Linked DNA regions of Homo sapiens: all the other regions are linked to region 2. The links come from fine-mapping of genetic effects on gene expression. A gene starts in region 2. Each other region holds a variant in brackets. All regions are shown on one strand. Distances are from middle to middle. Region 1 overlaps AATF (apoptosis antagonizing transcription factor). Region 2 holds the start of AATF (apoptosis antagonizing transcription factor). Region 3 overlaps AATF (apoptosis antagonizing transcription factor).

What was found. PIP is the estimated chance that this variant, and not a neighbour inherited with it, causes the effect.
Region 1: its variant is the best candidate, but not a certain one, in a credible set for the expression of AATF in whole blood (INTERVAL, PIP 0.88).
Region 3: its variant is the best candidate, but not a certain one, in a credible set for the expression of AATF in substantia nigra (GTEx, PIP 0.88).

Annotation. Positions count from the first base shown.
Region 1 is chr17:36,983,248-36,993,846 of GRCh38, reverse strand. It overlaps AATF (apoptosis antagonizing transcription factor), which reads right to left. Exons shown (of 12, transcript NM_012138.4): 5 at 7,116-7,230; 6 at 5,127-5,328; 7 at 4,436-4,600; 8 at 2,990-3,073. Among named protein-coding and RNA genes, the nearest start is that of AATF, 40 kb to the right of the region's middle. The variant A/G (reference allele first, on the strand shown) is at 4,505.
Region 2 is chr17:36,943,802-36,954,400 of GRCh38, reverse strand. AATF (apoptosis antagonizing transcription factor) reads right to left here and starts at 5,447. Exons shown (of 12, transcript NM_012138.4): 1 at 5,185-5,447; 2 at 3,996-4,187; 3 at 1,105-1,515; 4 at 494-631. The coding sequence starts at 5,275. LHX1 (LIM homeobox 1) reads right to left here. Exons shown (of 5, transcript NM_005568.5): 5 at 9,789-10,599.
Region 3 is chr17:37,022,642-37,033,240 of GRCh38, reverse strand. It overlaps AATF (apoptosis antagonizing transcription factor), which reads right to left. Exons shown (of 12, transcript NM_012138.4): 11 at 1,556-1,627. Among named protein-coding and RNA genes, the nearest start is that of MIR2909, 5.8 kb to the left of the region's middle. The variant T/C (reference allele first, on the strand shown) is at 6,983.

The sequences.
Region 1 (10,599 bases), 39 kb before region 2:
CACAGCTTCAAGACACCTGAATTAACCAAGTAAGCCTTTAAACCCTTACAATGGAACATTAAAATTCAATGTGGCTATAATCTCTTCCTTACAAAACATGAACCCAAAGAGTCTGGCTTCAAGTATGGTTTTAAAAAAGGGGGAATGTATTATATTCACCACCCAGCTCTTCCATATGACCATGTTAAAAAAAACCACACAAATGAAAACTCACAGGCCCATTGTAATATATTGAACCACTTCTGAATGCAACACTTAGCTCAGGCTTACTACTCTGACAAATAAAGGAAAGCACTTTATGAAGCCAATTTAATTGGGAAGTGACAGAAAACATACAGCCATTTTCTTTAGCCTTATCACTGAATTGGCTTCAGCTCCAATCTCTGGCAAATCCCACTCAACAGAAGAAATTAACCAGGTCAGCAGAACAGGTGCTACCTTGTGTCTGTCAAGGGCCTGGCATCACCACAATTACTTGCACACAATGAAGCAGTAATCTTTACAGATCATCTCTCCCAAGAAGCATATTTGGGAGGGGGAGGAAAACTGAAGGGTGAGGGGAGTGGGAAGAAGAAGGGGAATGGGAAGCAAAGAGAAAAGGCAAGAAAAGAAAATGAATGTGCAGCTGCCTTGCAGCTCAGCAGATGTCGGAATGTGATGTACGAGGCTAGGATAAGCTGTCGTAGCCCGCTGCCAAAGAGTGGTAAGTGATTAAAACCTGCACAGTTCTAAGCACCATATTTAGAATCTGCAGGGTTTCAAGACTTGCACCCATTCCTTGCTGTGCTGCCAGATGTTGGCAACTGGTCCAGTTCCTACTGACTGTGCATGGATGGCAGCAGTTGGTGTAGCAGCAAAGCAATCTGGAATGCTTCCGGAGATGCTGTACATTAACAAGTGTCACCCATCATTCACCTTTACAGAAGGCTGAAACAACTCCAATTTGCTGCCACTTCCCTCTTGGGAAACAGCCAAGATAAAGTTGTGCCTGGCAGCCCCATTTGTTTCACTCAGGTGTTTTAGCTGCCTTGCTGACCTCTATTAGTTTAAGTTTTAATTTAGATTAACCCCAGCACCCCAATTAACCAGCAAGGGGAAAAGCTAAGATGTGACTAGTCATAACTCTGAAATCAGAATTTATCGAAGTTAAAATTATTAATTGGGATGAAGGGCCAATCAAGTAATGCTATTTCTTTTTAAACAGACCTCCAGGCAAAAAAAAAAAAAAAAAATTCAGACTAAGGATTGCCAACAGAGGCAACTTCTCCCCAGTAATTTCACTTTATTTTATTAAGCCTATTTAATTTATGATGCACTTTTCATCGAACAATGTACACTTCAATTAATGAGGACTGGAACATTTTTGATTGTCTCCCGTGATCTCACACAATTATACAGCATTAATATCCCATATCAGGTACTTCCTTAGACACTCTAGAACAAAATAGAGTTCCTTACTCTTCTGACAAATGAATATAATAAGAGAAGAGGAAAAAAGAATCAGGACCTCTGACAGGGAACAGCTGCAGCCACACCAATCTTTTTTTCCTATACCCTCTAGTCATTACTTTTAAGACTTACTTATGGCAATAATTTTATCAAACATTATAGAATGAATAAAAAAAATTAATAGAAAGTCTCTTTCTCTTTTTAGGGCAAGACCAGAGGTATCCCCAATATAAAATCACTTGTTCTATATTGACTTTACATGTAATTTTCCTAAGAAGTTCTTCTTCATATCCATATACACAGTACAGCAGTCATGGCTAAACCCTCAACAAGCAGTCGCAAATTACTTGGCTAAAGCTAGCACATTAAAAATTTGACAGAGAAAAAAATTATCTTGATAAACAATGGCTCAACAATAACTGGTATATCACTGCTGAACAGCTTCCTCTATTCTCCACTAAGCTAGAAAGGGTACAGCCAAACACACACTCTATTAAGAAGTATAATTTGTCTGGCCGGGTGCAGTGGCTCAAGCCTGTAATCCCAGCACTTTGGGAGGCTGAGGCAGGGAGATCACGAGGTCAGGAAATTGAGACCCTCCTGGCTAACACGGTGAAACCCCGTCTCTACTAAAAATACAAAAAATTAGCCAGGCCTGGTGGCGGGCGCCTGTAGTCCCAGCTACTCGGGAGGCTGAGGCAGGAGAATGGCGTGAACCCAGAAGGCAGAGCTTGCAGTGAGCCGAGATTGCGCCACTGCACTCCAGCCTGGGTGACAGAGCGAGACTCCATCTCAAAAAAAAAAAAAAAAGTATAACTTATCAAGAGACTCAGGAATACAGGAAGTTATTTCAGTTCTCTAGAACAGCCCAAATGTTTAGTCTATCTTAACAGTCTCTGGCATCATTAAAAAGAACAGCATGCCAGCAGAGAGTAATGTCAGGGAAAGAAGTGGGGGAGTCTGAAAACATATTGAGAACTGGACTATATTTCAACTTCTACCAATTCTCTCTGTCTTCAAAAGCACTATGCTCTTATTATAATCAACAGTTGCAGACATTCTCAATACATACTTAACTGACTTCGACAGGCACAAAAAGACATTAAGAACAAGATTTAACAGATAATAGGATCAGTAGCGCAATTCAGGAACTCTGGGATCCCAGCCCTCCAGCTCCACGGCCCATTCTAATAGTAATGAGACAAGAAACCAAATAACTTAACAAATCCTCCATCATCAAAAATGGCTCAGAAAGAACCCACTTGACTCAGAGAAAAAAACCTGAAACTGTTTTACAGCTAATTTACACTCAAGCAACAACAAAGTAGCTATAGCTGTTTTCATTTCAAAAGGAAAACATAAAATAGAAGAAAAGCAACAAATCCACAATGACACTGTAAGTCAATTTTGAACGCGGGAGTTCTAACTCACTGTCTGACTCTATCCTTCCAAAATAAGCAACTTCTTTGTTCAGAGAATTCTATAAGCTGCTTTAAAATGCTAAAACATGATTTGTAACAAGAGAGTGTAAAAGTCTCACCTGGTGGTAAAAGTCATCATCATCAAAGATTTCTTCATCCAAGTCCTTCAGATGAGCATTAGCAGGGGCTTGAGGAAGGATCTCCTATGTTAACAATGAGTAAGAAAAGAGTGAATCCCAACAAGGCTATCTAACTAATGTAGCTACTATAAATAATATGTAGAACAGTCAAAGCACTGTTTTCCTTAAGATATAAAAAGTTCTTAAAATTAAAAAACAAAACAGTCCAATATGAAAACAGGCAAAAACATTAACAGGCAGTTGACCAAAAAAACCCATAAATAATCATATGAAAATATGTTTACCCTCATTCAAATTAAATATGTGTAAATTAGAATTAGAAGATACCATTTTTCACCTCTACGACTGAAATTAATGCAGCCTTTTTGGAGGCAATTTGGCAACATCTATCAGAATTTGGTGTATTTTCTTTAACACTTCCACTTCAAGAAATCTACCCATATATTTATACGAACACATAATACATGTACAGGAATCTTTCCTGTAGCAGTGTTTCTGAAACTGGAGACAACATAATATCCATTGTTTGCATAAATGATAGTGCATATCCATACAATGGAATACTTTGAGGTCATTAGGAAAAATGAGGTAGCTCTCTAGGTAATGAAATGGAAAGAGTATCTAGGACTTATTAGATTTTAAAAGTTGCAAGACTTTAAATACAGTTGTAATATTTTACATATTTATACTACATAAATGTCTCTCATTTAGTAAAAAAGGCAACCATATTTATACATATATATTTGTTATTTGCACACATATATAGTTACACAAATAGAAAAGACCCAAAAACTTGTTACAACTATTAATTATTAACTGTAAACTTGTTACAACTATTAAATACTGAAAATTTCACCTCAGGAGTTACGTTAACAGGCAATTGACAAAAAAAATAAAAAAATTTCACCTCAGGAGTGAAATTTTCAGAGTAGAGAATTTTGCTTTTCATTTTAAGTTGCTATAAACTAAAAAAGGATTAAGTATATATTTCTTCCATAATTAAAAAATTTTAAATGTTTCCTTTAAACAAAAGAATTTGACTATTCCACTTCTGCACCCTTTCTAAAGTACCTAAATGGCAAACGTTGAGCCTAAAGTACACACTTGTTTCAATACTGACATTTCTACAGAAGTAGCTTTAAAACTGAATTTTGAAAATTGGATTATGAATGCTTCTACTACCAGACTCCTGCATCAAACTCAAAATTAAGAGAAGATGACACACAGGAGTTAATAGAAGCCCCATTTTTAAAAACTCTCTCCTCTCACATACACTCAAGTTTCTCTCAGTAATCCAGTAAAGTAGTGTTGCTTTCCTTTCTCTCACTAACCTCTTATATAAACAGGTAATAGCTACAAGTTTTTCAGCTAATAAGCCTCATAGAAACTATTCCCCATAATCACTCTGCATTACAGAGTTCTTACCGGTTCCCCTGGCAAACTCTCTGGGACAGGCTGAGCTGCTGGCTCAGGTTTGCCAAGAACTCGATAGAC[A/G]GAGCGCTTGGTCTGTGTCCTTCGAAGTAATCTCTCTTTGTCCATCAGAATATGGTCGATCTGAGTCAAGATTGAGCGTTCAAAGGCACCAAAACCCTGCAACAACATTAAGCAGTGTCAGATAATGCAGAAAATCAGTGCTGAAGGCAAGCTACATTGGTTTCTCTATCTTTCTGTGTCAGCAGAGAGATAGAAAATCATCTTTTCAGGAGGGACTTTCTGTAAAGGACTGAGTTTGTGAGTGGCTATAATTGTTCTTAAAAAAAAAAAGTTAGTCTTAAGCAGGTCATATCATTTTTCTACACACGGAGATTAGCTTCTGATACTTTAATAATTATTGCTTTGAAATCCACTCCTTTAAAGTATTTGGATTTTCAGCACTTGAACACTTACAAGGCCTCAATTTTAAGAATAAAACATTCTTTCTAATAAAGTTAAAATCCCAAGTCTGAATCGTATAAACCCCAGTGCCAGAAGTTCAGTAGATTTTGCTATAGAAATGAATGATTACCATTACATCGTGACAACATCCATATAAATGAGCTGTAGTTCCAATTTCTTAAAACTTCTTCAAGTTGCCACAACCTATCTTACACATACATGCGCGCATACACACACTTGCCTTCCCCAGTTTTCCAGAAGCCAGTTTGGTCTTATCGTGCCATTTCTGAAGTGTGCGGTTCCTGTAGACTGTAAAGTCGGCAAAGCGCTTTGCCATGAAGCTGGGATAGTCCTCCATCTCCAGCTTCCTCTTTGCAGGGACCCTTCTTCGTTGCTGCTTCTTCTCTTCTACCAGCTCATCATCTTCACTAGAAATCTCCTCACTAGAAAAGCAGTAAGAATATTATGTCCAGTGTAAACAAACATTACTTAGATTTTAAAAACTAGGCTCACATAAAGGACTGAGAATATTTAGGCCTTACCTGTTCTGTCTCCATTCAAAATAACACCAAAGATATAAGGATGGCTTTTGCTCTTTGAGAAGAATATTCATGAGATCAATCAAAAACTCGTGTAACTTTTTTTTTTGAGACAGTCTTGCTCTGTTGCCCAGGCTGGAGTGCAGTGGCGCGATCTTGGCTCACTGCAACCTCCACTTCTGGGTTCAAGCAATTCTCATGCCTCAGCCTCATGGGTAGCTGGGATTACAGGTGTGTGCAACCATGCCCGACTAATTTTTTTCATATTTTTAGTAAAGATGGTGTTTCACTATGTTGGCCAAGCTGGTTTCAAACTCCTGGCCTCCAGTGATCCACCTGCCTCGGCCTCCCAAAGTGCTGGGATTACAGGGCATGAGCCACCACACCCAGCCTCATGTAACTTTTAAAACAAATATAAAAAGAACTAGTTTCAAAATATTTTTTAAAAGGTAAGTAAACCATAAAAATAAATGAGGTTTTAAAAGAATTATTAGAAATGTGTATGAACCAGGCCTGCAGTATTATAGGACAGTATTTAAAAATTAAACACATAACCATATTTCTACGACCTTAATCCTCAAATCAATAAGGGAAATGTGTCTCTCTGTAACCAACTGTTAAGGAAAGATGAATAATATTAGTTGAACCAAATACAAGAGAAGCTGAATGTGAAGAAAACTCAAAGCGGTAGGCAACAATTAGCACTAACTAACCTGCAGTGCCATCTATGCAACTGCCATGGCAATGTAATACAACCTCCAACTATCTGCCAGTTGCACTCACTGGATTACTGACCTCAACATATAATAGGTGCTCAATAAATGTGAGTTTCCTTTTTGTCCTCCCAACTAGTTCAGTAGATAAAAAGTGAAACAAAAGATAAGCTCGAGGGAAAAAAAGCAAGCAGGTATATACAGCAGGTGTAAACAAAAGGGGGAAAAATCTTCATCAAATGTAATAATTTCAGGGGGAAAAAATAATTATTTTGCTGTTTTCTGAAATTTTTCCATCTTTCATAATAACAGCTTTTATTCAAAGGAGATGGCTGTGACCAGTGATTCCAATATATGGTATGGGCACAGAATGTTTCATAAACATTAATTAAGCATTAATATTTTAAAAATGTGCTTTTGGCCAGGTGAAGTGGCCCATGCTTATAATTCCAGCACTTTGGGAGGCTGAGGTGGAAGGATGGCTCGAGCCCAGGAGTTTGAGACCAGATAGGGAAACACAGCAAGACCCTGTCTCTACAAAAAAAAAAAAAAAAAATAGCCAGGCATGGTGGCAAGTGCCTGCAGTCCCAGCTATTTGGGAGGCTGAAGCAGGAGGACCGCTTAAGCCCAGGAGTTTGAGGCTGCAGTGAGCTGCGATCACATCACTGCACTCCAGCCTGGATGACAGTGTAAGACCCCATCTCTAAAAAACAAAGTGCTTTTATCTTCTAATTCCAATAGATCTAAAGAGAAGGCAAGCCTTTGTCTAAGACCGCAAAGCACATCAGGTACAACTAAATATAAAAATCTAAAATCTAATCACCAACTTATGTGCCATCCTGACCATCAGGTAAATATGAGACTCTATTTTACTAACATTAATATCTGCCTGAAGAGAACTTAGCTTTTCTTTCATAAATGATGGGAAACTATCCAAATGAAAAGAAAATAAGCAACTCCATGATTCTGTTCTCTTACCTTCCCGCATTGGGCTTTGTCCCATCTACTAGATATCTAGTGTCTGGGTACTGGAAAAGCAACTCTTCCTGAAGACCTACCAATGACCTCAACAATGCTTTAAGTGCCTTGTGACCTGGGAAATAAAGGACAGAGAAAGGACAATTAATTATCTACAATTCTCCAAAGTAGGTGATGCCTATAACTCATGACTCCTGAGCAGTTCTGGCTGTGGGGAGTGAAGGGGAGGCACAGGATACACACAGGAACTAAATACTCTCTGAAATATTCCCAAATGGAAATAACAACGTTGCCTACCTCACAGGATTGTTGTGAGGAACAAGCAAGATCATGCATGTAAGGTGCTTAGAAAAGTGTCTGCAAAGAGTAAGAGTCCAATACATTGTCAGCTCTTAAATGTATTAAGCTTGACAAACTCCTCCCCGGCCTCTCATTATAACCATTAATTTGTTCCGTTGGTGTTAAGTTTCTTAGGTATCTTCCTACAGGTTACCTGCTGACCTCCTGGACTATTCCTTATCAGTCAGCTCCTTGAGCACTTCCTTCTCTTCTCCTAAAGAGTAGGACTTTGTCTAGGCATCCCCACCACCAACACCTTCCACCTTGCCCCCAGGAGATCTCATGTGCCTCTGGTTTGAGCTGCCACATCCTTCACTCCATCTCTCAACACATATCCTTATGGAAAAGTTCCTGTTCACATACGAAAACCCAAGCTAATGAATCACTTTCTATTTGCAGTATTGAATTGTATATTAAAAATTTGGGCATTGAGAATATATTCTCACCTGGTTCTCCTTGGAGCCAATAAGATGCATATGTAATAGAGCTGGTCAAGATGATGTATATAGTCTACGGATAAAAACTTTCAGAATAAAAACTGGTCGGCCGGGCGCTGTGGCTCACGCCTGTAATCCCAACACTTTGGGAGGCCGAGACGGGTGGATCACAAGGTCAGGAGTTTGAGACCAGCCTAGCCAACATGGTGAAACCCCATCTCTACTAAAAAAAAAATACAAAAAAATTAGCTGAGGGTGGTGGTGGGTGGCTGTAATCCCAGCTACTTGGGAGGCTGAGGCTGGAGAATTGCTTAAACCCAGGAGGCGGAGGTTGCAGTGAGTCAAGATCATGCCACTGCACTCTGGCCTGGACGACAGAGCAAGATTCTGTCTGGAAAAAACAAAACAAAAAAAACTGGTCCTCGGGGAGGACTGCTTGAGTCCAGGAGTTTCAAGACCAGCCTCAGCAACACAGTGAGACCCCGGCTCTAACCAAAAAAAAAAAAAAAAAAATTTAGCCAGGCATGGTGGTGCGTACCTGTAGTTCCAGCTACTTGGTGGAGGGGCCCTGAGGTGGGAGGATGGCTTGAGCCCAGGAGGCTGAGGCTGCGGTGAGCAGTGATCACTCCACGGCACTCCAGCCTGAGCAATAGAGTGAAGGTGAGACCCTGTCTCCAAAAAAAACCACACACACTGAACAAACCTCATCCTCAGCCAGGGGCAGTGCTTATGCCTATAATCTCAGAACTTTGGAGGCCAGGTGCAGTGGCTCATGCCTGTAATCCCAGCACTTTGGGAGGCGGAGGCGGGTGGATCATCTAAGGTCAGGAGATCGAGACCAGCCTGGCCAACATGGCGAAACCCCGTCTGTACTAAAAGTATAAAAATTAGCCGCGCACGGTGGTGTGCACCTGTAATCCCAGCTACTCAGGAGGCTGAGGCAGGAGAATTGCTTGAACCTGGGAGGCAGAGGTTGCAGTGAGCTGAGACTGTGCCACTTTACTCCAGCCCGGGCGACAGAGTGAGACTCTGTCTCAAAAAAAAAAAAAAAAAACTGTGGGAGGCCAGGACGGGATGATTGCTTGGGCACAGGAGTTTGAGTCCAGCCTGCTGAACACAGTAAGACCCCAGCTCTACAAAATTTTTTTTAAAAACTAGCCGGTTTTGATGGTGCGCACTATAGTCCCAACTACTTGGGAGGCTGAGATGGGAGGATTGCTGGAGCCCAGGAGTTTGAAGTTACAGTGAACTACAATTATGCCACTACACTCCAGCCTGGGCAACAGAGCGAGACGCTGTCTCCAAAATCTCCCCGCAAAAAACAAAACTGGTCCTCTGACAACAGAATTCTTACCTTCTCTATTAGAATAACCCTACTCAAGGGGCTAACTAGACACTGAGAGTCACCATTTATGTGTTGAAAGTACTCAGACACCTCTCCTATAATCAAACTCTCACATTTCCAGTGACTGCCAGAAAATCTTCATGTGGTTGTTCCATCACTCCTTCACACATACTGTGTCAGAAACAGAACTTTTTTCTTCCTGCTTAATACCTCTCCCTGTCTGAACCTCTCTGCATTGTTCAATGTGTTTTCATAGATCACTCACATTTGGGTGCTCTTATTCTAGATGTTTAACTGGTTGCTGAATTCTGTGTTTTCCATTCTTACTGTCACTAATAATTGCCCATTTATCTCTGGCCATGCTTCTATCACTCCTTCCATTTTTCACTTAGTAACTGTAGTCTCACAAGCATCCCTACTTCCGTTCAACAATCCCGACATTCATATATTTACATTTCACACAAACTGTAGCCCACACAAACTTAGGTTAAATGATTTTTATGTCTTATTCTTTCTTTTCTGCTTCTGCTTCTACCCTGTCCAGCATGAGCAGACTTCTCACTAGTTTATATCCCAACTTTTTCCATCAGTAGGACACCAATACATGAGTTAGACAAGTTCTCCATATATTTCATACTATAGCATTCTATTTCAATGTCAGGCCTGAGAGCCAACCTACCTGAGAGAGCCATCTCAGACTAGTCAGAAAGAACTCAATGGTCCAATAACTACTTTGCATTCCTTCAAATAATCTGCATATCAAACTATATAAATACAACTTCCTTGTTTAAAATAAGGTCTTTGATTACATCATTTCTAAATTCTGTAATCCTTTATAATCTGCATATCATACCACTTGGGAGAATTTGTAATACATAACTATCACCAAAAAAACTCAAAATGCCTTTGTTCCAAACCAAGATTCTTAACCAGTTGCTCTCTGTCTTAAGAAAAAAATCAGTCTGGGCACAGTGGCTCACACCTGTAATCCCAGCACTTTGGGAGGACGAGGTCGGCAAATCACTTGAGGTCAGGAGTTCAAGACCTGCCTGGCCAACATGGTGAAACCCTGTCTCTACTAAAAATACAAAAAAAATCAGCCGGGTATGGTGGCGCATGCCTGTAGTCTCAGCTACTCGGGAGGCTGAGGCAGGAGAATCACTTGGACCCGTGAGGTGGAGGTTGCAGTGAGCCAAGACTGCACCACTGCACTCCAGTCTGGGCGACAGAGTGAGACTCCATCTCAAAAACAAAAACAAAAAAACTAAGGCCTGATGTGGTGGCTCACACCTGTAATCACAGCACTCTGGGAGGCTGAGGTGGATAAACTGCTTGAGACCAGGAGTTCAAGACCAGCCCGGAC
Region 2 (10,599 bases):
CTTTAAAGAATTAACTCAGGGCCAGGCTCAGTAGGTCACATCTGTAATCCTAGCACTTTGGGAAGCAAAGGTGGGAGGATTGCTTGAGGCCAGGAGTTTGAGACCAGCCTGGACAACACAGTGAGACCCTGTCTCTACAAAATATCCCTCTCTACAGGCAGGGTGGTGCACGCTTGTGGTCCCTGCTACTCGGAAGGCTAAGGTGGGAGGATCACTGAGGTGGGAGGATTGCTTGAGCCCAGGAGGACGAGGCTGCAGTAACCTGTGATCGCGCCACTGTACTTGAGACTCAGCAACAGAGCGAGACTCTGTCTCAAAAAAAAAAAAAAAAAAAAGCAACTTGGAAAGCCAAGGGGGATGGGGAGGGGAGAGCAAGGGCAGATGAGAAGAAAGCACAATAAACATGGCTCAAGCTCCCAGTCCACTTCAATCAAAGCTGTCTTCATTTGACAAAGTGGTTCTAAGTATTCCAACAGGACATAAGTATTCTTACTATTTTTCAGGGCACTGGAAAATTCTGGGCCACCTTTGTCCTTGAACAATGGGAAAACATCTGGTTGAGGAAGCTGGTTGGTGGTCAACAGAGCTTTTTGTAGTTTGATCCTTCCTTCCAAGAGCTGGTCCCACAGTGCTGAAAAGAAGAAAAGAGAATCCCATTCCTCAATAATAAAATATTCTGGGGGTGAGGTGGCAGGGGTGGGGAAGAACAGGAAACCACACCAGTCTCTAAGCACCACAGCTTTAGCAGTTTAATGCCATGGAAACAAATATTCTCTATTAGAGAAAATAAATTCAGTATCCATGAAGCAAGTATTTGCTACAGCAGAGTGGGAATGCTAAAACCCAAGGAGAGGAGAAAACACTCTTCTCTTCAATCTTCCCCAGTTGCAGGAAGTACTAGAGCAGAACCAGCTAAGCAGATCAGTGCAGAAATGGCTGGCTAAGCATACAGGAATAGGGCTTTAGGCTTCTGGGTAAGTGGGGCATGTCACAAACTAATTGAAAGGACACAGGAGATAGAGAATAGCCAAAAACAAACAAATGAAAAGTAGACCAAATGCAGATACTTTGAAAAACAGGCAATCAGCAAAACCATGTACAAACCTATCTGGTTCTTCACGGCTCTTCCTTTCTCCACTTCCTCAGAAACTTTGACACTAGAGAAGGTCATCACCACACCATCATCCTCACTGTTTCTATCTCCAGCCCTGTCTTCCTCACTCTCGCCTTGGGAGTCTTCCGCGTCATCCCCTTCTTCCATGCCACTCTCTTCGTCTTCCTCCTCCTCACTGCTCCCAAGGTCATCCATTCCCTTGGTAAATTTCTCAAAGTCACTGATACTCTGGACACTGAAGCCCGGTGTTTTTGCAGAGTGGCTTCTGCTCTTCTTGCTCTCCCTGTGATCACCACACTCCTGTTCCTCAGCAGCACCCAGGTCGTCCTCATCATATTCCTCCAGACCCAGTCCCTCTGAATCTTCATCTCCAGACCCTTCCTCATCAGATATTTCCTCATCTACAAAGAAGAGAGGGAAGAAAGAGAAAAATGGGTATTACCTGGAGAAAATACCAAGCCATAGACTTCATTTCAACTTAAGCACTGTGGCATCAGGGGGAAAATCTCTTACTGCACTCAATTCAACAATATATTTATTACACATCTACAATCTCCAAAATGCTAAGGGAGAAGCAAAGATGAATAGAACACGGGTCCTACCCTAACAAAAGGAGCTAGTGGGAAAGACAGACTCACAACATTACAACTCAAGGAAGCATCAGAAGTGCTTTGACAAAATTTCAATAACCCAGAAGAGTGAGAAATTTTAACTGTGGGGCAAGTGAATTTAAGCTAATCTCTAAGGAAGAGCTAGCATTTGCTCTGGCCCTTGAAGAACAGTAAGATTTCAACTGGTGTTAGAGAATTACCAGTTTTCCCAAACCTGATCTGAAAAAATGTACAATCTATCACATCCGTCTGCCCTATTTACTAAATACTTATTAAGCACTCATTATGAGCCAGGGGCTAAGGAAAGGCAAATAGAATTTAATACTTGCTGGGAGGAGTTCATGGTCTGGTGGGAGTGGTAGATATGCATGCCAATAATTATATTACAAGGTCATTAGTACACAGTGTATGGAGATGGAACCACCTAACTCTCCTGGAAAGGTGGGGGATGGTATCATGTGGAGAAGGAGACATTATAATTTTACTTATGAAGCATAAGGCAACAGCTCATAGATAATGAAGGGAAAACGCACTGGAGTGCAGGATGCACAAGGAAGTGATGGGAGATGAGACTAATCAGGAAAGGTCTCGTCTTTCATGAGGACTCTGAACTTGATCCTATAGTAGACAGAGTGCTAGTTAAGGCTCTTTGTTTGACTTATGCTTAGAGTATCATCTGATATGTAGAGGTTTTTACAGTTTATCCAATCTGTTCCATGGTAGAACATAAAAGCCCCATGTGTTTCAAGTATGATTCTAAGATAGAGGGACCAGTTTCCAAAAACTTTCTTCAATAAAATAAAGATTTTAGGAAAGCGTGACAGGTCTTCAGCGCTTCTTTAAAAAGGTATATATAAACTTAAGACACAAAGCTGCCAAAAATATAAATACAAAAACTAAGTGCCAAAACAGTAAACAGAAATTATTATTTAAATTCTTTGAATGTACGCCATTTCTCAGATTAAGAAACATTCATACAGAGTTTACTAGAGTGTACATCTTGGAGTCAGACAGCCTACATTTGAATCATGTTTCTTCCACTTACTAACTATATGACCTTGAGCAAACTTATGTAACCAATTTGCCCCTCGATTTCCTTATCTGTAAAATGGGGCTAAGTAGTAATAACTTCCTGCGCAATTGGGAGGATTAAATTAGGTGACACATGTAGTGATAATGGTGATAATTTTTTATAAAAATCTGTCTAATTCCAGGTAATTTTATAATTTTTTTTTTGAGGACTTACTGTGTCCCAGGCTCTTAGAACTTAAATTATAGAGCTAAACTCAGTGCCTGACGCATGGTAAGAACTCAATAAATATTATCATATTTGTCTCATGATTGGTCCCTTTATCAGTCTCTAGGCAAAGAATATGAAATGAGCTTATCAGGAGCTCCCAGAACTACATCAAGGACTAAATCATAGATATCATAACCTAAATGATAGTTCCTTTTATATTATCTGTGGATTCTCAACATGACACCCCTGACCTTTCTAAAGGAAAACAAATGACATTCTCCCAATAATCACCATATCTAGCCCCTTCTTCCACTCTGAGAAATTTACAATTCTTTAAAACTATAAGCGCACAGACTCCTAACTCTTTTGCAGGGAAGAGAAGGATTATGTGATTTTTTAGAATGGCAAAAAATGAGTTTCACAAATAACTAATATCACACAGTGCTTCAATGCAAGTCCTGGAAAACCAAAGGTCAGGGGTCACAATTCAAGGATAACATGTTCATCAGACACAGTGGTTTTTCAGCTCATAACCCTCTCCAGTAGCCAAAATGCACTGCCTTCTCTGTCACTCCACTGTAGGGTGAGCCATTAGTCCGAACATAAGGAGTATAGCAACTTAATCACTCTGGGCTTTAGATTCCTTATGAAGTGAAATGAAGTAACCTCTAAGACCCTTTCTAATACCAAATCAATGGTCTCTCCTAAGATAACAGATAGGGGTGCCTGACCAACATGGACAAACCCCGTCTCTACTAAAAATACAAAATTAGCCGGGCGTGGTGGTGCATGCCTGTAATCCCAGCTACTCGGGAGGCTGAGGCAGGAGCCTCGCTTGAACTCCAGAGGTGGAGGTTGCGGTGAGCCGAGATGGCGCCATCACACTCCAGCCTGGGCAACAAGAGCCAAACTCTGTCTCAAAAAAAAGATCCGCAGACTACTCTTGCAAAGATCATGGGGGATGACCGGAGGATTTTAACCCTGAAAAAATTAGGGAAGAGAAGAGTTCCATTCAAAAATGTCTACTCACCAGACGATCCTGGCAGAGTCTGCTCCCAATGGTCTTCATTCCATGCTTTTCTAGAGGTGGTTTTGCCGCAATACCTTTTGTCCGTGTCCAAGAGGGAGGCTGATGCCAGTTTTCTAATGCTACCCACTACTAGGAAATCACCTTCCCCATCTTCCCCTTCATCAAACCTGTCAATCACCCTGGCAGCAGTGGCTGTCGGGGGAGAGGGAAAAGTAAACAGAATCTCCAGGTTAGCAGAAACTTTAACGGGAACCCTGGTCGACCCATTTATCTCATAGTTGAACGTCCTTTACGAAATCCCCACCAACTTCCAGGAATAGGAAATTCACTCTCTCCCAAAGTAGAACACTGTCTTACTGCTGTTTCTAAACAGAAAGTTGACTCCTGGCATCTACTAGTGGGATCTATTTCTATGACTTGGATCCTATCAAACTAGTTGAATTCCTCTTCAATGTGTGACAGTCGCTCCAATATCTTAAATCAGTCATCACGTTCTCCCCTCACTCTGTCCCATTCTTTGGGGAGTTTTCTTTGCTTATTCTGGCTAAACAGTCCCGAGTTTCTTCAACTGATCTTCCTAAGATACGGTTCAGCACTCGCATTTATCCCTCCTTATTATCCCTTTCTCACACTTCCGACTCAAGTCTAAAGCGGGATTACTCCCAGCTAGACTCTGAACATCAGCTTACAGAACAGGAGTCTCAGTCGTCAGCCACTGAACAAGTGTCTTGAGACTTCAAGAGACTTAAACAGCACCAGAAAATCCTTCCATCAGTCTCCAACTTAGTTTTGAAGGGCAACCTGAATTAAAAACATGCGACTTTCTTCTCCTCCTTTCTAACGCAATACCAGAAAGGGCATCCTCAAAGCTAACTTCCAACTTGCTAGCAGACTCTCTGGCTCCCTCCAACAGGCCTGGAGCAAGTAAACCTGAAGACCAGCTCCTCTCGGCCTGAGCCCTCGATCTGTTCCGCCCATCCAGCCGAGCACCAAGTTTCGAGTGCGTGTGAAAAGAAGCCGAAGCCCTCCTCCCGAGGCCGGGACCACCCTCGCGGGAGGCGACGTTCCTCTGCGCCAAGCGAAGGAGCGCAGGCCCGGCGGCCTCGCGCACGCCCCTCCCACGCCGCCCCCTTGCCCCACAGGGCCTGGCCCACCGCTCCGCACGTGGCCTGCCCCAGTCCGGCCTCACCTTCCTCGGGGTCCGCTTCAGGGTCCGCCTCGCTTGGTCGCGGGTTCAACAACTGTTCCAGTTGCAGCGCCAGGGGCTGCGGCCCCGCCATCGTCACCAGCTCCCGGTCCACTCCGCTTCGCGCACGTAAATGTGCGGCCCAACCCCCGGCCCCGAAGCTCCTTCCCTGCCGGATCCTCTCGCCTTGATCCGATTCCCCGACTCCGCCAGAGACCGCGCGGAGGCCACCCCACAGCTCTGGACCGGCCACTTCCGGGAGGCGCGCGGGAGGGGGCGGGGCCTGCGCGTCACTGCGGGCGTTGCTAGCATGAAGGCGGAAGCGCGCAGAAGGTTGAAGGGATTGGAGCCGTATGGGCGCGTGTGCGCGTGCGCGTGCGAGTGCGCGGGAAGGGGCGGTGCGGAAGCGCGCCAAGGCACGTGACCGCTTCTGTCGCTGAGATGCGATTGCGATGCGCGCGGCCAGTGTCCCCTTGTACAAAATATGCCTCGAGATTTGTGCGAGATTCGCTTAGGAATAAAGCATAGCGTAGCCGTGGCCCACGGTGGCTGATTTGGGAAGGAGGAGGGAGTAGGGCTTAAGCTGCTCGAATCGCGGGTGCGCACTCGGGCACGCAGAGACTGGGACCCAAAGCAGGTTTGTCATTTCGCAATTTATAGTAGTCTGAGGCCGGGCACACGCCTCCCGCCCTTCAGCGGCCAGGATTTGGGAATCCTATGTCAGGGATATGCACGTGTAAGTGTGTGGCGGACTGCTGGCGTCTTTCTTAATGGGAATACTTAGGAATCGCTGTGGCTAAAGATAGTTTCAGTAGCGTCTCTAAGTACCCTTGCCTGAGCAAGGGAAAGGGGGTGGGGTGTGGATTACTCCACTGCATACCCCTCGGTATTGATTATCTTTGCTGTTCAGAGATGAGGGCATGCTCAGGCAGCTTAAGCAGGTGCACAAATGCAGAAAAATACAGGTCTACCGTTAGAGGGACAGACTCAAAATATAAAGACTTAATAGTATAAATGTAATTGCACCCCGCACACGGAAAGACACAATCGCTTTACATCCTCTTTCCTTCATCAAGCATTCCCTGACTGCCCACTATGTGGCAGGCACTGCTAGATAAGATACAAGATAAGTAAGTTGGATTCTCCCCCCCACGGTAATCAGCCTAGGAGGGTAGACAAACATGTAAACAGAAACTGCAATAAGGGATGATAAGTGTGACTACAAAGTGGTCTATTCTTATGGTATCTGTTGGAGGTTGCCTGTAGAGACCTAGACCCCTCTAAACAGAATCTGCCTCAAAAGGATCCAGAAAAGAGATGTTAGTGGTGCACTGTGGCAGTGCCCCTTGGGTACAGCCCGGGCCAGTTGGATCCCACAGCTGAACAACTGGGGAACCCTCAGCTCTCTACTGTCTCCCATGAAAACCAAGGGAAGAGAGGATCTCTGACTTTCACAATCTTCATATGTCCTCAGGGCCAAGAGCAATAAGAGGACACCACTTTAGTGGAGCCTGTTCCATGTCCCTGTAAAGTGGCCCTTGAAGAATGAAGACAACCAGGGCTGCAGAGGGGAAGGAGAACCTGTCTGAGGGTAAACCCCCTCAGACATGGAAGGAAAAGAATGCCAGGCTAGGCAGGGCACTCAGGAGAAGAAAACGGCTTTTTACCATCCATAAGAGAGCTTAGCCTAAGAGAACAGTTTTTCGTTTATCCTCTATAATTGCAGTCTTGTGCCTGTGTCCGGGCCTCCCAAGCAAAAGTGTGTTCCTTGCTCCTTGACAAGGTGCCATGGGGCTTCAAAGGACAAAAATGTTTCTCCCACCCCACATTTAAGAAACTACCTCCTGCAATCCTATCCCCTTGCTATGTTGGGTACTTACAATGCTTAGAAACCTGGCCTTTGAGGTAAAGAGAAGGAAGAAAAGAGAAAGGGAGGTGAGTCACTGCAGAGACCACCTCTAAGCTGTCATGCAAACAGGACACTGCTGGTCAATTTGGGGGCTGTGCTGGGCAAACACTCAGCAGAAAATGCCATAGACCTGTTTACTTACTCTCCCTTCTCTGTCCTGGTCCCTACTGACTTGGGAAGCCATTTTAGCAAGGAATCAAGACCGTTCTACTGTCACACACATCCCAGGGCCCCCCAAAATGTTTGCCTGACCTTATACTGAAGGTAGAAAGAGGACTCCAGGAGTGGAGGGAAGAGGAAGTAATTCTAGGAATTAAGATGCAACTGAGAGTAGTTGAGGCAAGGGACAGGGGAGCAAATTCTCAAATACTCCCTCTGGGGGCCTCTCCCTACCTGCATTCCAGTGTCTTGAGATGGTGGGGGAAGGGCTTATTGATGGGGTAGGGATGGAGATGGAGAGTGGACTGTGGCGAGGAGTTTCAACCTCTGACTGATGTAGAGATGAGAGCAGATGAGAGGAACAGGGAGAGGAGAATAAGGGTGAGCAGTTCCCTAACAGAATGGCCTTCTCCAGAGAAGGCGGAGGGGCGCCCAGTCCACAATCCCTCTCCCTGCCCTCCAAGGGCTGCAAAGTGGCAGGCGATTAGGCACAGCAGAGGATGGGCAAGGGGTGACACTTTCCAATTGTCCCAAACAACTGTCTGCTCACTTGACAAGGAGTTTCAAGAGTTTGGGAAAACCAAGTTCCCACTTGCCTCTCTTCAGATGCTGTCCACCCTCAGGTGCCAGCCCTGGCAATGCCTATCCTGGCTCTCCACAGGTAATACTTCCCCAAGTGCCTCACCTAGAGCAGCTTACCAGCGGCAGCCAGCCCGGAGAAGTTGGGTGGGTGAGCTTCAGCTCCCTCGCCAGAGCAGATGGTGGCTCCCTGCTGCTGGAACCCTGAAGGCAGGTGGCGAGAGGCACAGAGGTGGTGGCTTTAAGATGGCCACAGGGAGAAACCAGGCTGCCCTCCCAGGCGAGAGGGGACTGCAGTGGCGCTTCCCTCCTGCTGCGCCTCCTGCGGGAGCTCCGCCTAGGTATGGTGCCGCACGTCCCCGCACCTCGGGGCCAGAGGTGGGCGGCACAGCACTGATGGGAAGGAGAACAGGCCCTGACATTTCCAGGCCTCCTCCTTGGGGCCTTCGGCTCCAAATTTGACTGCTGAGCGTTGCCACCTGTTCGGGTTTTCGCCAGGATTCTGAATCCCGCGACGAGGGGAGAGACTGCGCCACAACCACGTTGTTAGAAGAATCGAATCCACATCGTGTGCCCAACTCGAAAACGCTTCTTATCAAATACCCCGATTGCACAATAAAGCTGCTAAATAATTCAGCAGCCTTGATAGGAAAATGCAGCTTCCCAGTGAGCGCAGTTCATTTAAATGAATGTCTTTAAAGGGGGCTAGGGAGTAGAGGCTATAATGAATAAGTTAGCTAGGATTTAATGTGTATAAATGCTAAAAAGGTAAAAACAAGCCGATCCAGTGATTGCATATAAAGCAAATAAAGAAATGTGCTGCATGCAGAGGCTGGGAGTTTCAAAAGTCTCCTCTGTATTTCATACATTTTTATTTCTGAAAGAACACTGCCAGATTCCTCCCGGATAGCCTCCTCCCCCATTAGATAAGCCATCATATGGATGCAGTGAAATATTGCTTATTTTAAAGCCTTCTCTGCAGGAAAGATAAACTTGGCTGTGTCTTAACAAAATTTGAAAACAGCACTGGAAATTATATACCATTTAATGTCAAACCTTTGACTTTTTAAATAAGGAAATAAATAATCCAGAGTGAAATCTAGGTGATATGGAAAAGAAATCCTGGAACTCTAATAGCATCTGATACTGAAACACACACACATCCACAAGAATATTTCATAGTAGATAAAATATTCAAATTTCTTCCAAGTCTAATGAAGGACTGGAAAGAATCGAGCTACTTTTAGAACCTTTTGAGTTGAAATTTGATTTTGATATTAGTTATTTTTGTTCATCTTTCAGAGAAACTTAATATGTATCTTGTGCCAGGCAAAATAGTTTTCCTTCTGGGGAACTTCAAAGGTAACAAATACTATAAAACAACAATTTCATATCAGTTCTGTGAAAGGGATTAAAGTATTTCATTTCTAGCTGTACTATACATTCATTTTACATTATCTTTCAAACCACCAAATTAGAAAGCCTTTACATTATCTTTCAAACTACCAAATTAGAAAGCCGGATTATCTATAGGAAATGAAATGAAACTGAAAAGGACCACCTCTAACTATGTATTACAAGTATCTGATACAAGCCCAGTTTTGCATGTGCAGGGAGAGTGAAAGAGGGAATGCCTTGGATCTTATGCCTAATCACAGACCTGGACCACTCATTTTTTAGCCATGGATTTGATTTCTATTTCAAATTCTATATTAACTTATCAGCAAACATCTCTTCAACGGTATCAGTTAAATCCACAGGATGTAAATCTGTAGCTAATAACAGCAGGAAGCCACAGAGAAAAGCTTGGCTGGCATTAGCAAAAGGTTTCAGCCATAGCCAAGGCAAAAACAGATATATCATCCCAATCCTGCCTCTCTTTTCCACCTGGCTTCTGAGGACCCATTCAGCTCCCCATCAGGGTTCCCCTTTGAAAACATCAAATAACACACCAATTATCTAAACATCAGATTTTCTATTTTTATTAAAAACTCACAAATTTATTCAACATGTTTTCTTTCATACAGTGAATGGTCTAATATGCACTGGAGGTCACACAAGCTTAGGTTTATTAGAACAATAAAAGACATATGAGAAATTTAATATATAAAGAAAAAGTAGCAGCTGTTGACTGCATATTTGACCATAAAATTTAAATATTTTGGACTTTTATTTTAAAGACACAAAAATAAAACCTGTGTGGGTCTATATAAGTCATATTAACAATTCCATGAATGTTCAACAGGACAAAAAAATTAGCAAAGATGTTTTTTTTTAAATCTTGTAACACTTTTTTTTTTTTTTTTTTAACACTTTCTCAGGTTGCTGGTGCCAGGCACCTTTACAGTATTTGTGCTATAATTATTCTATTTGGCAACTGTCTGAATAGCATGTTTTCTCTTTGCCTCGTGTAAACAACACCTTTTTACATACTAGCACAGTGAGCCGAAAGCCCTGCAAATCTGTCAGAACATCTACAGGAAAAGAAAAGGAACAATTTTGGTTGATTGCTCAAAACATTTTGTTTTCGAACAAGAGGTTTCAAAACAGGATATATTAGTAAAACACTGAACTCCTGAATTTAACATTATACGTAAACAGTTGACTGTTTTTAGTTCAATAGTCTTTTTTTTTTTTTTTAACTTTTTGTGTGTGAAGGTAGAATACTTTTCTTGTACAGCTGATGTTCAAGTCATTTTACTGAGCGGTCTGGCTGGAGACCATCTTACCGAGTGTGTCCGTGTACGTGTGTATGTGTGTATGTGTAGTTT
Region 3 (10,599 bases), 79 kb before region 2:
AACAAAAAACCATGGCCATATCTAGACATTCACTTGCAAAGCACAGGATAGCAGATGTGGTCACAAAGCCAGACACAAATGTACTCAGAACCATCCATAGGCTGTTTTGTGCTCAAAGTACTGAATAAACCAAATAAAAAATAATAATAGTATTTGTCAAAATTTGCAGATCTCATACTTTCAGACAAGGAGGGGAAAATCTGATGGCATTTGGTAGCAAACAAAATACTCTAAAATAAAAAGTTTATATGTAGTTTGAGGGATAAAACTGGCAAAAACCACCTGTGCCTATGTTATGACCAATAATTTCACTTGGTAAATATGTTTAAAAATGCTTCTCATAGCATTATTTACAATGATGACAATTAAAAGCCATTTAAATGTCCAACAATCAGTGAATGGCTAAATAAATATTATAACAATATTATTTCGTCATTGAAAAATTTTAATTATTTTAACGACATGAAAATGCTCTCAGTATATAAAACATTTCCTGAATATAATTTCAATATAAAAAAGAAAAACAGGAAAATACTGAAAGGGAACTTACAAAAACTGAAATGAAATGCTGTAAGATGTTAAAAGTGGCTGTCTTCTGTGTAGGTGTGAGTGTATATACATACACTTCCCGTCTCTGCTGACAGGTCTAGAAATAGCAATACTCACTAACAAGGAGCACCCCTAGTACCTAGATCTTGGTTTCTAAATACCACAATCCACTAAACAGAGCCAGGGCTCCTTCAAGAAAGACTGATTTCAGGGCTGGAAGATGGAAAGTCTAAGATGAGCATTAAACATCTTCTTGTGCCAGAAAGTAAGGAAGTACTCAAAGATTGACTGAAGACAACTTTGAAGGACACAAGCCAGTTTGACGGCACTTCCACTATCTGGGACAATTTTAATATCAAAATAAACATAACTCATTGAATAAAATAGGAAAACATGAGTCCATATTGATATAAATGAATAAATAAATGGTAAATAAATGAGGGAGAAGAGGAAGCTCTTCATTATAGAATGCCAATTAATAGATACAGAAGAAACTATTATTTTAAAAAGGTTATCCCTGAACGGTAATATTATGAGCATACACTTTTTTTCTGTATTTCTCTCGTTTCAGCTTTATAAAATAAGCATATACATCTTTTGTAAAAACACTCACAATCCCCAACAAATACAACATATGCACATCTCCAGAGCACTCACTAGAGCCACTTTCAAAAGGAAAGCATATGCACAACAGCCCCAAGTACAAACGGCAAGAACATGGGCCACCTGCCCTGTCCTAGAGAGCTCACATGTCCCAGGGCGCTGGGCTAAAGTTCAAAACAAAACAGGAAAAACAAACAAACCACCAAAGGCAGCACTGAAATTTATGCAAGTTTTTGGTTTGGTTTTATAGTAATTATGAGGGTGAAGAGATGTGACCCTTACTGCGATGCCAATGACAAATGGTTAACTGATAAGAAGAAATGGAGAGGGCGAAGGCTGTAGAGCAGGTCAATATCAGGCTGTCATGAAGCCATTTGAGACACATAATTAATCTATTACTCACCTGGCATCATCATTCATTGTAGTATGGTCAATAGGTGCCATGAAACTCAGTAGCTTGCTAAGGACATGAAACCTAAATAAAGCAGGAAGCAACAGGCAGCAACATTAGTAACTATTAACCTAGGAGAGGAAACACATTCAGTGAGTTAACAAACTCCAGAACTGATCACTGGAACATCTGGGTACAAAGTGGGATAGGGAAAAATTCATAGGCACTTACCACTGTCATTGGGATGACCAACTACAGTCATCCCATGGTATCTGTGGAGGAATGGTTCCAGGACTCTCTATGGATACAAAAATCCACGGATGCTCAAGTTCCTTATATAAAATGGCATAGTATTTGCATGTAATCTACACACATGCTCCCATATACTTAATTCATCTCTAGATTACTTAAAATACTTAATGCAATGTAAATGCTACGTAAATAGTTGTACAATGTATTGTTCAGGGAATAATGACGAGAAAAAAGTCTGCACTTGTTCACAGGTACAGACATTCCTTTCCCCATGCCTGAATATTTTCAATCTGTGGTTGGTTGAATCCACTGATGTGGAACTCACAAATATGTAGGGCTGACTGTACATTTTTCCCTTTTTCCCTAATGCTACAGGAGAAAAGTCTGATAACAGTATACTGTAAATGACAGTTCAACACAGATTCATTTATAGTACAGCCCCAAAAAAGAACAGGTACACTTGTGCTTTTGAGCAATATACAACCCTTAAACATTATTCCAGACTAAAGACAATGAGGAATTGACTACCTCATTTTCTTCCTCTACATATATCTTAAGCATTTTTCATTTTAATAGATGTCACAAAAGCCATCTACTGGCAGCAGCACAGGTAGTGGTACAGTATCTGAATGCAACACCTCACCAACACCACACACACTGCCACTGGTTCCCCAAGGCAGAAAAGGGGTCTGCAATTCCACGTCATCTCCATGCACTAGATCCAGGGGGTCTTTCATTTCCCCCACCTTTAAATGGAGAAACACAACTGAATTCACAGTAAGTTTGATTCCTAGATCTTCAGTCTAGGTACTATGGAAGTTTAAGTTATATCACCTACATTTCCCACCAAATGGAAAAAAAAATATTTTGTATGATGTGTTTGAGATGCTCTAGAAAATATATGACCTTATACAGACCAAATCATACCAAAGATAATTCAAAGGGGTATCCTTTTCTACTCATTATAATGTGCCCTCTCTATATACATAAAATAAAATTCTAACCCAAAAAACTCTACTAGGGCAAAACACTATCCATAAAACAAAATGTGGTATTTTCATGTATTTAATACATAATATTTTAAAGTTTTAGGAACATTTTTACACATATCAAATAATTTAATTATTTATTATATCACCCACAGCTCAGCCTCCCAAAGGTAATTCTTTATCTCAACAAATGAATTTTACAAGAATAATACTGGTTAAGATTTTTCCTATTATACAAGTAATAGAGGCAGGGTGTGGTGGCTCATGCCTGTAATCTCAGCACTTGGGGAGGCTGAGGCAGAAGGATTGCTTGAGACTAGGAGTTCAAAACTAGCCTGGACAACATAGTAAGACCCTGTCTATACCCCCACACCAACCCAGAAAAAAAGTAATACAAAAGGTATAAAATACAGAAAATTGAAAAAAAACCAAACCACACAGAAAACACATACAGTTGGCCTGGCGCAGTGGCTCATGCCTATAACCTGAGCACTTTGAGAGGCCAGGCAGAAGATCACCTGAGCCCAGGAGTTCAAGACCAGCCTGGGCAACATAGCAAGACCCCGTCTCTACAAAAAGTAAAAACAACTGGCCAGGCACGGTGGCTCACACCTGTAATCCCAGCACTTTGGGAGGCTGAGGGGGGGCAGATCACCTGAGGTCAGGAGTTCAAGACCAGCCTGGCCAACATGTTGAAACCCCATCTCTACTAAAAATACAAAAATTAGCCAGGTGTGGTGGCACATGCCTGTAATCCCAGTAAATAGGGAGGCTGAGGCAGGAGAAACCCTTGAACCCGGGAGATGGAGGATGCAGTGAATCGAGATTATGTCACTGCACTCCAGCCTGGGCGACAGAGAGATTTTGTTTCAAAAATAAAACAAACAAAAACCAAAAAGTAAAAAAACTGGCTGGGTGCAGTGGCTCACGCCTGTAATCCCAACACTTTAGAAGCCTGAGGCGGGTGGATCACCTGAGGTCAGGAGTTTAAGACCAGCCTGGCCTGCTAACACGGCAAAACCCTCTCTCTACTAAAAATACAAAAATTAGCCGGGCGTGGTGGTGTGTGCCTGTAATCCCAGCTACTCGGGAGGCTGAGGGAGGAGAATTGCTTGAACTCAGGAGGCAGAGGGTGCAGTGAGCCGAGATCAGGCCACTGCACTCCAGCCTGGGTGACAGAGCAAGACTCTGTCTCAAAAAAATAAATAAGTAAAATAAAAAAGTAAGAAAACTAGCCAGGCACGGTGGCATGTGCCTGTAGTCCCAGCTACTCGGGAGGCTGAGGTGGAAGGATTGCTTAAGCCTAGGAGGTTGAGACTGCAGTGAGCCCTCCGGTCTGGGCTTTGTAGCTCAGGCTGGAGTGCAGTGGTGTGATCATGGCTCACTACAGAGTATGAGCTTATCTAAAAAACAAACAAACAAAAAATCCCACACACAATCCTTCTACCTATAGACAATTGTTGTTACGTTTGTTTCACATAATGATCCTTATATATATATATATTCACACAATTTTGAATGAATTCTTTTCTCACCTAGCCTTATAAGCAATGTCCCATAAACAATTTATAAATAGCTGCATATAACCGTAGGAACAGAAGTACCCTATTTTCATATTTTTGAACACATACATTGCTTCTAATTCTTCACTTTTTGTTGCTGTTGTTGTTGTTGAGACAGGGTCTCACTGTCACCCAGGCTGGAATGGAGTGGTGCTATCTCGGCTCACTGCAACCTCTGACTCGCAGGTTCAGGCCATCCTCTCACCTCAGCCTCCTGAGTAGCTGGAACTACAGGAGTGTACCACCATGCCCAGCTAATATGTGTATTTTTAGTAGAGATGGGGTTTCACTATGTTGCCCAGGCTGGTCTAGAACTCCTGGACTTGAGTGATCCACCTGTGTTGGCCTCCAAAAGTGCTCGGATTACAGGCGTGAGCCACCATGCCCAGTCTAATTCTTCACTTTTTATAAAAAAGGCCTCTATGTATCCTTGTTTTTTTGTTGGTGATGTTTTGTTTTTTTGAGATAGGGTCTTGCTTTGTTGCTCAGGCTGGAGTGCAGTGTGCGATCACGGCTCACTACAGCCTTGACCTCCCAGGCTCAAGCCATCCCCCCACCTCTGCCTCCCAGCCCCGACCACCACCAAGGAGCTGGGACTAGAGGTGTGCGCCACCATGCCTGGCTAATTTTTAAATTTTTTTTTTTGGTAGAGAGAGGGTCTTGCTATGTTGTCCAGGCTGGTCTCAAATTCCTAAATTCAAGTGATCCTCCCACCTCAGTCTCCCAAAGTGCTGGAATTACAAGCATAAGCCACTGAGCCTGGCCAATACATAACTCTTAGATGTGAAATTGCTGAGTTGAAAGGTATGTATATGTAAACTTGACTGAGTCAAAATGCCTTCCCAAAAGTTATGTCAATGTATGAGCATAAATATTTATATAACCTTTTTATTTAAATATAAACCAAAAATACTGTTAATTAAATATATCTTTTAATGTCCTTAGGCCTCACTAAACTTCAGTGTCCATCTGAAAGTATGATTACTATTCTTGGCTGTGTCCAGAGACGGCTTTAATTCACTTTCTGGACAAAGACTATGAACTGTACCCTACAGTTGTGTTATGCAATACAGTAGCTACTAGCCACACGTGGTTACTGTGCATTTGAAATGGGGCTAGTCTGAATTGAGATGTACTGTAATTAAGTATAATATACAAACGAGATTCTGAAGACTTGGGACAAAAAAAATACATATCACTAATAATTCTTAAAATAGTAAATTGTTGAAATAATATTTTTATATATTGGGTTAAATGAAATGTCACTAAAATTAAGTTCATCTTTTTCTTTTTACTTTTTCAATGTCGCTACTAGAACATTTAAAATTGCATATATAATACATATTAATATTTTTATTAGATGGTACTGCTCTGTAGAATATCTTTACATTTAATACAATATAGTTAATAACTATTAACTACATGATGAAATACAGGCTTTAGGAAGAAATCAGATTAAAGACCATTTAGTAATCTGTACTTAGCATCTAGTCTCGGTGCCACTGCAAATGGGTGTATGTTTTAATATTAAATCATCTTTTACCAACCATACTAAGAAAAGACAAATATTATTTTGTTGTGGAAGAACAGACCAACACAGTAAGACGTCATATTATTAAAGGCTTGGGAGTTTGATCCATTTACATTATGATTTCTGATTAAATCATAACTAAATCCACTTATATGTAATGCTGAGTAGAATACTGACAATCAATAATTATAATTACTGTATTTCCAAAAACCAAAATATTTGTTTTTTTAAAAAACGTTATTTTCTAGCATCCAATTAGCAAGTCTGACCAGGCTGTACCATTTAAACTAATGAAGTGTTATTATTTAAACTGTTTCCAGAAGGTAATGTTAATCTTTGCTACAACATTTCTGGAAGTCTTACATATACAACCCTATCACAAACAAGGAGCAAAAATTGCTCAATGGTGGGACCTAGTATCAGTGATGACAGCTGGCATACACTGTCTGTTCTTGAAGTTTAACTCAAGAAAGTTGTTTATAATATTCTCATCTAGCCTGGGGGGCCACTTGGTTTAACCCCTTAGGAAAGGATGCTAAGGTGGCCAAGATGTCATTCTGGTGCCTGTATAGGGTTGGTCCTGCCAGTGAAACAACTCAAGATCCAGAGATTAGAAGAACAGGCTCTGGAATCAGACCAATTAGTTCAAATCCCAGTTTGCTACTTACTATGTAACACTGGGGATGTTACATCACATGAATTAGCTCATTTAGTCTGCATAACCACCCTATAAAATTGTCACTTCTATGATTATACTCCTTTCACAGATGAGGAAATTGAAGCACAGAGATGTAAAGTAATTTGTTCAAAGTCTCAAGGCCGGGAAATGGAAAAGTCAGCTTTCAAACCTAGGCAGTTTGGCTCCAGAGCTTATGCTCTTTCTGCCTCCGCATGTAAACTGATTAGCAGTGCCTGACCTGGGATTTCTGGAGATGTTAGTTCTTACGCTATTGCTATGAGTAAAGACTACTCTCTGATTCTGACCACATCCTCACATTTATGGTCTCAAGATGAGCCAGGTGAGTACAGATGACAAAACCAAAACCAATTCAACACACATGAACTTACATTAAAAACTTTTTGTTCTGTAATAATTTTGGGCTTC[T/C]AAGACCCCACATTACACCTTGCTGTGATGTCTCCTTAGTCTCCTGCAATCTGTGACAGTTCCTCAGTCCTTGTTTTATCATTACTTTGACACTTGATGAGTACTGGTCATTTATTTGGTAGAGTGTCTCACAATGTGGATTTGTATGCTGTTTTATGATGAGATTAAGGTTAGGCATTTTTTTGCAAGAATACCACAGAAATGATGTTGTATCTTTCTACTGAAGACACAGGGGGTATAGATATGTCTTTTTACTGGTGCTGTTCATCTTGAACACTTGGTTAAGGTGGCATCTGCTAGATTATTGCAAAGCCACTATGTTTCTCTTTGTAATGGACAAATATCTTGGGGGAGATACTTAGAGACCAAATAAATACAGTTTCTCCTCAAATTTTTGCCCATTGATTTTAGCATCTATTGTGGACCTTGCCTGCAAAAATTATTACTGTGGGGCTTCCCTAGTGGTGGTTTTCTATTTCTCTCATTCCCTTTACAACTGGATTCCAAAAGGCTTTTATGAAACAAACTAATCAAGATAGTAAAAGTTTACACAGAAATTCTAGAGGCCTTTCAAGTATGGAAAGTTTTAGTTTGCAGTTTCTGGAACTCTTCAGTAACCAAAGGCATTTCATGTGAAGAAATGTGATCACAAATGAAACGATGCTGCCCTTTTGTGATTTCTCTGAGGCACCAGGCGCTCCTGACCCCTTACTAAACACTGTCCTGTATTCATCGCTGTCGTAACCTCCTCCTGCCCTCCCCCGTCAATGGCCACTGTTCCTCAGCATTCTTTATGGGCTCCTCTTACTCTAGCTCACGTATGTTGACATTCTTCAGGATTCTACTCTTGTCACTCTGTATTCTTGTCACACCGTACCCTCCCTGGGTAAACAGCAATTAAACTGTTGCCAAACTATCAACTAATAAATACCCACATCCTCCTCTCGACTGAAAAATATCTCAACTTGGATTTCTGAAGGTTGTGTCAAACTTCAACATATTCAGAAACTGAATCCACTCCCTCCCTCAAAAAACAACAACAAAAAAGATGTTCTCCTTGCAGCCTCTCTCTTATACATATCAATGATTACTACCAAGACCTATCTAGTTCCCTGAAACTCTGGGAGTCATTCCAACCTTCTCACTTTCCTTTACCTCTTCATGTGTGGCCACTCTTAAGTAAGAACTACTCACCTGTATAAATGTCTCTCAATCCGTCATCTCCTATTCCTTCCAGGCCTTGCTCTCATAACTTTCTAGTCCTTTATAGAAAATCTCCTACAATTATCTTTTTTTTTTTGAGACAGGGTCTCGCTCTGTGACTCAGGCTGGAGTGCAGTGGCATGATCTCCGCTCACTGAAACCTCTGCCTCTCTGGTTCAAACGATTCTCCCGCCTCAGCCTCCCGAGTAGCTGGGACTACAGGCACATGCTACCATACCTGGCTAATTTTTGTATTTTTAGTAGAGACGGGGTTTCACCATGTTGGCCAGGCTTGTCTCAAACTTCTGACCTCAAGCCATCCACCTGCCTCAGCCTCCCAAAGTGCTGGGATTACAGGTGTGAGCCACTGTGCCCAGCCAATTATCTTTCTGAAATGTGCATGTGATGACAATATTCCTCTGCCTAAAATCTTTCAATGACTCACTACAGTCTACAGAATAAAGTCCAAAATTCTTAACGTGGTCATGATCTAGCACTCACCCATGCATGCAGCCTTATCTCCTGCCATTCTCTCATATTCACTTTTGGTGCTGGTATAGGCCAGTTGGCCAGTGAAACAACTCAACAGCCAGAGGTTAAAAGAACAGGCTCTGGAATCAGACCAATTAGTTCAAATTCCAGTTTGCTACAAAAGTCTCTGCCAAAACAAATTAATTACAGTTCCCAAAATGGGTCCCAGACTCTCTCAAGCTTACAAACCTTTTTGTACACATTCTCTTTGTCTTTCACTGGGCAAACGCCTACTAATCTCTCAAGGCTCAGTGAGGAAGTCGTCTTGTGCAAGTCTTCCTGAGCAGTCTGCATCCCTCAAGGGTGGAGCAGGATTATTTCTACTGCTACACCTCCCACACAGCACCTCAGTCGGCTAGGGTCTGCCATCCTCTCCAGACTAGTTGGCTCTCTGATGCTGTGGGTTCAGCATCCACAGATTTAATCAACCATGGATCAAAAATACTTAAGACATAAATGATTGTGTCTATATTGAATATGTCCCAATTTTTTTTCTTATTATTCTAAACAGTGTAGTGTAATAATTATTTACATGGCGTTCATATTGAACTAGGTATTATAAGTAATCTAGAGATGATTTAAAGTATAGGGAGGATGTGTGTAGGTTATATGCAAATACTATGCCACTTTATATAAGGAACTTGAGCATTGTGGATTTTGGTTTCTGCAGGGGTGGGGGTGTGGGGCTGTTTGTGCGTCCTGGAACCAATCCTCCACAGATAGCACAAATGACTGTGTATGCTCCCTGAGGGCAGACTGGGTCTTAACTACCACCTAATGACCATCTTCTTAGAAGGTGAAGGACACTAAAACCACTTACTATGTTTTCATGTTTAACTCTGTTTAAAAAGAATGCCTCTTTTTAAACTCTGTTTAAAAAGAATGCCTCTTTTTAAACTCTGTTTAAAAAGAATGCCTCTTTTTAAACTCTGTTTAAAAAGAATGCCTCTTTTTAAACTCTGTTTAAAAAGAATGCCTCTTTTTAAACTCTGTTTAAAAAGAATGCCTCTTTTTAAACTCTGTTTAAAAAGAATAAGATTTTACTGCCTCTGGATATGAGAATGTGGGGATCTCCACTGCTATCAAAATGCTGCAAAAGCAAAGGTATCTAATTGCATTGACACATACCTGTAATGAACAGTTTAATGAAGCTAGTTGAATTCATTAATATAAAAAGCAGTTGCTATTAAAACAAAATCCTGGTTTTTTCTTTTCAAACTGATATATTGAACATTTTTGAATGCCTACTATGTACCAGATATTTACACATGATTTCATTTAATTCCCATACCAAATCCCCAAAGCAGGGATTATTACCTCCACTTAGTAAATGAGAAAAGTGAGGCCCAGAGAATAAAGAACAACCAAAATCATATCACCAGACAGAGTCAGGGTTTGAACGCAAGTCTTGTGATTTGAAATCCTAAGCTCTTCCTTCTAGAGAACATTTATGTCCTCATAAAATTACAATTTTAAAAGTACAGTATTGGAGAAAAATTTGATCCCAAAAATAAAAAATAAGATAATCATTCAGCCTAGTCACCTATGAAGTACTATTAGTAACATTTTTCTTTAAATCCTTGAAGGGGGCTGGGGGGAGACAGGTACGGAAGAGACGTGTCAGTAAACAAATAAATGAACACTAGGAAAAGAGACTGACCCAACCTTGGAATACTGATAGCAATAATAATGACAGTAATAATGGCAACAAACACTTGTACAGTGCTTAACTATGTACCTGGCACTATTCTAAGAGCCATACACACCCTATTCATTTAATCGTCACAGCAACCATTCAAGGCTGATATATTATCATATCCATTTTACAGATGAAGAAACTAGCACAGAGTTTAAGGGTCTTGCCCAAAGTAACTACTAATCAA